2 linked regions of the Homo sapiens genome follow. The protein of the gene in region 1 purifies or fractionates together with the protein of each later gene. This does not show direct contact. Each region holds a gene or a part of one and is shown on either strand. Other genes may lie near its edges.

The links.
Region 2: the proteins of ADISSP (region 1) and CLIC4 fractionate together in Homo sapiens (co-fractionation; one large-scale study listed by BioGRID). This does not show direct contact.

What each region holds. Positions count from the first base shown.
Region 1 is NC_000020.11:3,764,855-3,769,007, forward strand, and holds the start of ADISSP (adipose-secreted signaling protein), read right to left. Parts: upstream 2,900-4,153; 5' UTR 2,809-2,899; exon of another isoform or gene 2,355-2,808; intron 1-2,354. UniProt on the Homo sapiens protein: Adipocyte-secreted protein (adipokine) that acts as a key regulator for white adipose tissue (WAT) thermogenesis and glucose homeostasis at least in part through activation of protein kinase A (PKA).
Region 2 is NC_000001.11:24,797,447-24,801,103, forward strand, and holds part of CLIC4 (chloride intracellular channel protein 4), read left to right. Parts: intron 1-295; coding exon 296-405; intron 406-3,657. UniProt on the Homo sapiens protein: In the soluble state, catalyzes glutaredoxin-like thiol disulfide exchange reactions with reduced glutathione as electron donor. Can insert into membranes and form voltage-dependent multi-ion conductive channels.

The DNA.
Region 1 (4,153 bases):
TCTTTTGCCTCACCCCTGCCCTGGGGGGCACTTCCCTCTCCCTGGCCCCCACCAAGTGGCCTCCCACTGGGACTCCTCAGGCCTTGCTGCAGTCAGCTGGTTACCTGTCCATGCCTGCTTTGAGAGGGACATGCCCCATGCCCACTGAGGGTAGGACCCACATCTCATGCAGTGCCAGTACTCAGTAAAGGGCAAACACTGAGGGCCTGTAACCCTCTGGATAGTGACAACATAGAGGCAGGAAGCAAGGGACTTCAGGAACCCAAAGGAAACTGGGAAAACCAAACCTCCTTTCTCAATGGAGAACCTGCTGGTCGCTGTCCTCGGGGAGCTAGACTCTTGTGCACACACAATTCCTCATCAGAAACAGGCAAAGAGGGCACTGGGCCTCCCCTGCTGCAGCTGTGTCCACAGAGAACAGCTAGGCCACCACACAACCCCAAGCCTGGCCCTGCCTCCAGCCTCCTCCTGTGCCAACCAAGGCCTCACCATGGCTCAATCCACATGGCCCCCAGAGGCAGCAGTCCTGGTTCAAATTCAGGATCTGCCCTTGCTAGCTGCATGGGTGAGTTCTTTCACTTCTCTGTCCCTGTTTCCTAATGTGTAACACAGGAATAAGCAGTGGCCTCTTCCTTCCAGGGTTTGCTGCAACTGTGCCTGAAGCTCTGTGACAATGCACCCCCCATCTCTGCAAAAGCAAACCCCCAAAGGCCTGGTTTCTAAAGCAACAGCAGTTTCAGCAGCACCGTCAGAGAGGCACTTCAGGCCAATCCTGGAGGAGCCAGGAGTGACCCTTAGAGTGGGCCCCAGGGACGTCAGCCTTCTTGGAAAACAGCTCAAGGGGTGAGGGGGCCTCCCTCCTCCTGCCTCCCCCTTCTCCCACTCCCAAAGCAGCCAGGTCCCTAGGGAGGGTCAGAGAACAGATGCTGGGAGTTTCCAGTCCCCCTAACCAGAGGGGGTCACAAGGAAGATGTGCAGAATGAACATCCTGGGAAACTGGGAAATGACTAGGGAGGAACATGGTGCCTCCCCGCCAGCAAAAAAAATTATACCCTTCCCCATGAGATGGAGTGTCAGCAAGCTTCCAGGCCCCAGCCCAGGGTGCAGGAAGAGGAGCTACACCCATTCACCTCTGGTCAGCATGCTCCCAACGTCTGAGACCTCATTTCTCATTCCTTCTTCAGTCCCCATTCTCATTGTGGTTCGAGGTCTTTCTCTCTGAGCCAGGAACTCCGCAACCTTCCACCCTCCCTACCTCTTCCTCTCCTACCCCAGCCTGGGGCTCAGTCCTGGCTCAAGCACTCAGTCCAGCAGAAGCACTGTGTAGCCTCCCATTAAAGCTCACGCCTGTGAAAAGAACAGCCATTGAGGCCTTGAGATGGGGCCACACTGACCCGCTGACTCTCAGGACTGGACACAGCAGAGGCCACACATACTCAGAACAAAGCCTGGAAAGGCAAGGCTGGAGGTCAGTAGTTGTGGCAGCTTCACATCAACTCAGCTTTAATGTGATTTAATTTCCTTCTCCCTCCAGTGGGCCAAAGGTGCAAAGATAAGTATGGCTGTTCTCTCTCCTTCTAACAGTGAGGTGCTGGGGGTGGGGGTGGGGGAATATGGAGAAGGGACCCTCACCACCCACACCTTCCTGCCTCCCCAACAAGTGCTGCCCTCCTCTGCCCAGCATTCTCCCCACTTTGCCCTCAGCTAGTGGGTGCTTAGCCTCCAGATAGCATGCCCCACCTAGGCCCTGCCCTGGGCCTGTGATCCAGAGGTCCCAAGAAGCAGAGGCCAGGCTGGATCCAGGGGGTCAGCCAAGGTGAGGGTGGGAGCACACAGGATTATCTCCCAGGGACAGGGCTGCTGCCTCGTAGCTCAGGATGGATAGAATGTGGGGGGATATCCAGCTACATTTTCCCTCCACAAAAGACCAGAATGGGAGAGGGATGGGGTGCTGCCCCGACTTTCTTCAACTCCCCGGAGCAGAAAAATGCCCTACCTCCACTTTCCAGTGCCAAGATTCAAGAAGAAAGGCAAGCGGAGACTTCCCTTTCTCAGTCCCTGCTTACTAATGGAAACACGGGTCCAGAACCTAAATCCAGTCCCTCCTCCTTCATACCACCGGGAGGGAGGTGCAGCCCAAGCCCCCGAGGCCCCAAGGGTCCAGGTGTAGGACCCTTTATCCTCTCCGGCAGCCATCCCTGTGGGTGTGGCACCCCCGCCACACCCCATTCTTGTCATCTCAGGGGGAGGGGGGAAATGTAATCGGACATCCCCCCCATCCAATCCATCCTGAGCTGCGAGGCGGCGGCTCTGTCCCTCGGAGATAATCCTGTGCACTCCCCACCTTCACTCACCTCGGCTGACGCAGGAGTCTCCGGAGCCCGCACTCCCAGACATCACTGCCCTCCTTCCTGAGGGTGCTGAGGCTCGGAGGCTCAGAGATGCTACTGGTCCAAGGTCATGCAGCGAGGCAGCGGCAATGAACAGGGTCGTGGGGAGGAGGGGGCGCTGACCCCATTACGCCCCCGCCCTCACTACCGCACTCATGCCCCCGGACAATCGCTTCGCGGAAAACACCCCAGCTGCACCAGCTAACGGTCACTGCGCCCCGGGAACCTGACATCACTCTAGTTCAGGTGCTGGGGAGTCCTCCAGGCCCGGCCCCGACAGCGGAGCCCCCCACCCCAGCCCTGCCATCACGGCCGCTGGGGTCCCAGGCACTGACTGCTCAGGACAGGGCCGGGACCGGGAGGGGACCTCGGCGAACGGGAAGGAACCGGGAGGCAGGGAGCAGAGGGGTGGCCTCACCTTGCGGGGTGCACCCCGGGGCCGGGGAGGGCAGGGACGACCACTGCAGCGGCGGCGGCTGCAGGAGCTCAACGCCGAGCACGAGGAAGGGAGCCCCGCGCCGCGGCCGCCCTCCCGTCGGCACGCCCCCGCCTCCGCCCATTGGTTGATCTGGGAGGGTGGGGCGAGGGACGCTCCGGACCAATGAGCGGGCTCCAAAGAACGGCCAACTGGCGAGGGCCGCCTACGTCACGTGCCAGGGTCGCCGAGGCAGCGCCCTGCTAGTCCGCGCCTGCCGGGCGAGCTCTCGCGAGGAAGACGGGCAGGCGGCCCAACTAGGCCAGGGGCCAGAACCGACCACTCGAAGAGGGAGAAGGAGGGCCTCGGATAGGCCCCGCCCCCGCTCCTTCTTCCGCCTGGGGGATAGCGCCTCTAGCCTTGAACCTTGCTTAGGACGCACCTCCCTTGGGCCCTTCGCTCTCGGGAGGGCTGTCGGGCGCGTCTCGGGGCTGGGTGGAGCTCCCGAAGGTGGCCTTTCTCCCTGGGCTTCCACGCCGGCTTCGGCCATCGATACGGGCCGTGTTGGTCTCGTTCAGGAGCTGAGGAACCCTCCATCACTCCTGTTTCGACCCCAGGGTTTGGACCTCTTCCCCTTCCACCCCATCCCCTGTCTCGAAAGAAGCAACCCCCGTGCGGGCCCGAGACGCGTCCCGGGTGCCTGGCCCGGCCTGGAGAAGCATCAGAACAAAGAAGGCACGCGGGCTGGGGGCTGGGAGAGCCTGTGACGCGCCCCCGGGGACCGCAGCCTCTGCTCCCGGTCTCCATGGAGGCGGTCGCCATGGCAGCGAGATGCGCCTCGCTCAGCACCGCGGGGTGGGATGTGGGCGCCTGCAATGAGCCGAGGAGCGAGAGGCGTGGCCCTCCGGTCTGCGGGGGTTCTTGCCGGTGCTCTCCGCCCGCCGGTTCGCGAACACCCCACCTATACTTCGCCCGTGGGGACGGATTCCCCAAAGTGCCCTCAGTAAGCCGTCCGGAGCACGCAGCGCCTTGCTTCCAACGGAACTAGAGAGACGGCCTGGGCGGCCGAAGGCCAGCCTCCCTTCAGCAGGGCCGGGGTCGCTGCCTTAAAGGAGCCCTCAAGTCTGCCACCCTGTGGCCCATAACCTGTCTGCTGATCTCCAGTCTGCACACTGTTGGCAAATTAATCTTTCTGAGCTCTTGTTTTCATCGCGTCCCTCTCCTGCTCCAAAGCCCTCTGGGACTGCCTCCAGTAGCGCTTCACAAACTTCAGCAGCACTTTGGGTGACTCATGTGCCCTCGCGTTTGAGAGACAGCGCTTACATTGAGAGCTTTTCACATTCTGATC
Region 2 (3,657 bases), on another chromosome or scaffold:
GCCTGTAGCTCCAGCTGCTTGGGAGGCTAAGATGGGAGGTGAAGGTTGCAGTGAGCTGAGATCGCACCACTGCACTCCAGCCTGGGTGACAGAAGGAGACCCTGTCTCAAAAAAAGAAAAAAAAAAAAAAAGGCTAATGAAAGAACAAAATAATAAAGACCCAAATTTCTACTCTTCCTTCCACAATGTAACTTTTCCTGGCTTCTTGTACTCTTGATTAAAATTCAGAAAAAGTTATGTCATGTTGAGTATCATCACTTTGACCTTGTTTTTAATGTTTAATTCTGTTTTCCAGGCTGGCAGTGATGGTGAAAGCATAGGAAACTGCCCCTTTTCCCAGAGGCTCTTCATGATTCTTTGGCTCAAAGGAGTTGTATTTAGTGTGACGACTGTTGACCTGAAAAGGTAAGACATGGTCGCAGTTTGCAATCAACTTAAGCTGAACTATCTTTTCAGTTTGATCCTATTTTCACCTTGATGGCACATATTCTCTAAAGGAAATATATTGTATTAAAGTTCTGCTGGTTTATGGACAAACAACTTGTATATAACTATTTTGGACAAGTCACGCTGTCAGTATACTGCGTGGCTACTCAGTCTTTTTTAGGAACTTTTGTATGTTTACCTTAAATTTCATGAGTAGCACTAGGAGCTAAGTGTTAGTGTGGATGCAGTGAAATCCTTGACTTCTTTTTTCCAGTGTAAACATGGAGTCATGAAGAGCTTTCTAAGCAGACATCATCTTGGCCCCAAATGTGTTAAGCATGTGATCTTTATAATCTGGATCTTCAAAGACAAGGATTTTTAGGAGGTTGAATACCGTTGTTGTCAATTTCATTTAATTTATTTTTCAGAGAATAACAGTAATTTTCTATAGCATTTTAGCTATAATGCAAGTATTTTAATCATATTTGTTTAAATGTATTGTAAAATAAGAGCAATTATCTGTGGCCCGGTGTCTGTTCTTGCTAAGTGAAGAGTTGTTTGTAGGTTTCTCTCCTGGATGACTTTATGGCTTATTTTCCATAGTGGAGAGGGCTGAGAAGAGCCGTGATGAGTAGAAAGCTCTGTTTTATTCAGGAATGTCTATTCACCTTTAGCAAACAGGTCTGAGGTGAAGAACATTCATACATCCCCTTCCCCAAAAGATTTAAATCAAGGGTTAAGAATAGTTGTATTGCTCTTCCTCTCCCTCTCCCCACGGTGTCCCTCTCTTTCCACGGTCTCCCTCTCTTTCCACGGTCTCCCTCTCATGCGGAGCCGAAGCTGGACTGTACTGCCGCCATCTCGGCTCACTGCAACCTCCCTGCCTGATTCTCCTGCCTCAGCCTGCCGAGTGCCTGCGATTGCAGGCACGCGCCGCCACGCCTGACTGGTTTTGGTGGAGACGGGGTTTCGCTGTGTTGGCCGGGCAGGTCTCCAGCCCCTAACCGCGAGTGATCCGCCAGCCTCGGCCTCCCGAGGTGCCGGGATTGCAGACGGAGTCTGGTTCACTCAGTGCTCAATGGTGCCCAGGCTGGAGTGCAGTGGCGTGATCTCGGCTCGCTGCAACCTCCACCTCCCAGCCGTCTGCCTTGGCCTCCCAAAGTGCCGAGATTGCAGCCTCTGCCCGGCCGCCACCCCATCTGGGAAGTGAGGAGTGTCTCTGCCTGGCCGCGCATCGTCTGGGATGTGAGGAGCCCCTCTGCCTGGCTGCCTAGTCTGGAAAGTGAGGAGCGTCTCCGCCTGGCCGCCATCCCATCTAGGAAGTGAGGAGCGGCGCCTCTTCCCGGCTGCCATCACATCTAGGAAGTGAGGAGCGTCTCTGCCCGGCCGCCCATCGTCTGAGATGTGGGGAGCGCCTCTGCCCCGCCTCCCCATCTGGGATGTGAGGAGCGCCTCTGCCCGGCCGCAACCCCGTCTGGGAGGTGAGGAGCGTCTCTGTCCGGCCGCCCCGTCTGAGAAGTGAGGAGACCCTCTGCCTGGCAACCACCCCGTCTGAGAAGTGAGGAAGCCCCTCCGCCCGGCAGCTGCCCCGTCTGAGAAGTGAGGAGCCTCTCCACCCGGCAGCCACCCCATCTGGGAAGTGAGGAGCGTCTCCGCCCGGCAGCCCCCCCATCTGGGAAGTGAGGAGCGTCTCCGCCCGGCCAGCCGCCCCGTCGGGGAGGGAGGTGGGGGGGTCAGCCCCCCGCCCGGCCAGCCGCCCCGTCGGGGAGGGAGGTGGGGGGGGTCAGCCCCCCCGCCCGGCCAGCCGCCCCGTCCGGGAGGGAGGTGGGGGGGTCAGCCCCCCGCCCGGCCAGCCGCCCCGTCCGGGAGGGAGGTGGGGGGGTCAGCCCCCTGCCCGGCCAGCTGCCCCGTCTGGGAGGTGAGGGGCGCCTCTGCCCGGCCGCCCCTACTGGGAAGTGAGGAGCCCCTCTGCCCGGCCAGCCGCCCCGTCCGGGAGGGAGGTGGGGGGGGTCAGCCCCCCGCCCGGCCAGCCACCCCGTCCGGGGGGGGGGGTCAGCCCCCCCACCTGGCCAGCCGCCCCGTCTGGGAGGTGAGGGGCGCCTCTGCCCGGCCGCCCCTACTGGGAAGTGAGGAGCCCCTCTGCCCGGCCAGCCGCCCCGTCCGGGAGGGAGGTGGGGGGGTCAGCCCCCTGCCCGGCCAGCTGCCCCGTCTGGGAGGTGAGGGGCGCCTCTGCCCGGCCGCCCCTACTGGGAAGTGAGGAGCCCCTCTGCCCGGCCAGCCGCCCCGTCCGGGAGGGAGGTGGGGGGGGTCAGCCCCCCGCCCGGCCAGCCACCCCGTCCGGGGGGGGGGGTCAGCCCCCCCACCTGGCCAGCCGCCCCGTCTGGGAGGTGAGGGGCGCCTCTGCCCGGCCGCCCCTACTGGGAAGTGAGGAGCCCCTCTGCCCGGCCAGCCGCCCCGTCCGGGAGGGAGGTGGGGGGGTCAGCCCCCCACCCGGCCAGCCGCCCCGTCCGGGAGGGAGGTGGGGGGGTCAGCCCCCAGCCTGGCCAGCTGCCCCGTCTGGGAGGGAGGTGGAGGGGTCAGCCCCCTGCCCGGCCAGCCGCCCCGTCCGGGAGGTGAGGGGCGCCTCTGCCCGGCCGCCCCTACTGGGAAGTGAGGAGCCCCTCTGCCTGGCCACCACCCCGTCTGGGAGGTGTGCCCAACAGTTCATTGAGAATGGGCCAGGATGACAATGGCGGCTTTGTGGAATAGAAAGGCGGGAAAGGTGGGGAGAAGATTGAGAAATCGGATGGTTGCCGTGTCTGTGTAGAAAGAAGTAGACATGGGAGACTTTTCATTTTGTTCTGCACTAAGAAAAATTCTTCTGCCTTGGGATCTTGTTGGTCTGTGACCTTACCCCCAACCCTGTGCTCTCTGAAACGTGTGCTGTGTCCACTCAGGGTTAAATGGATTAAGGGTGGTGCAAGATGTGCTTTGCTAAACAGATGCTTGAAGGCAGCATGCTCGTTAAGAGTCATCACCACTCCCTAATCTCAAGTAATCAGGGACAAACACTGCGGAAGGCCGCAGGGTCCTCTGCCTAGGAAAACCAGAGACCTTTGTTCACTTGTTTATCTGCTGACCTTCCCTCCACTATTGTCCCATGACCCTGCCAAATCCCCCTCTGTGAGAAACACCCAAGAATTATCAATAAAAAAATAAATTAAAAAAAAAAAAAAGAATAGTTGTATTAAT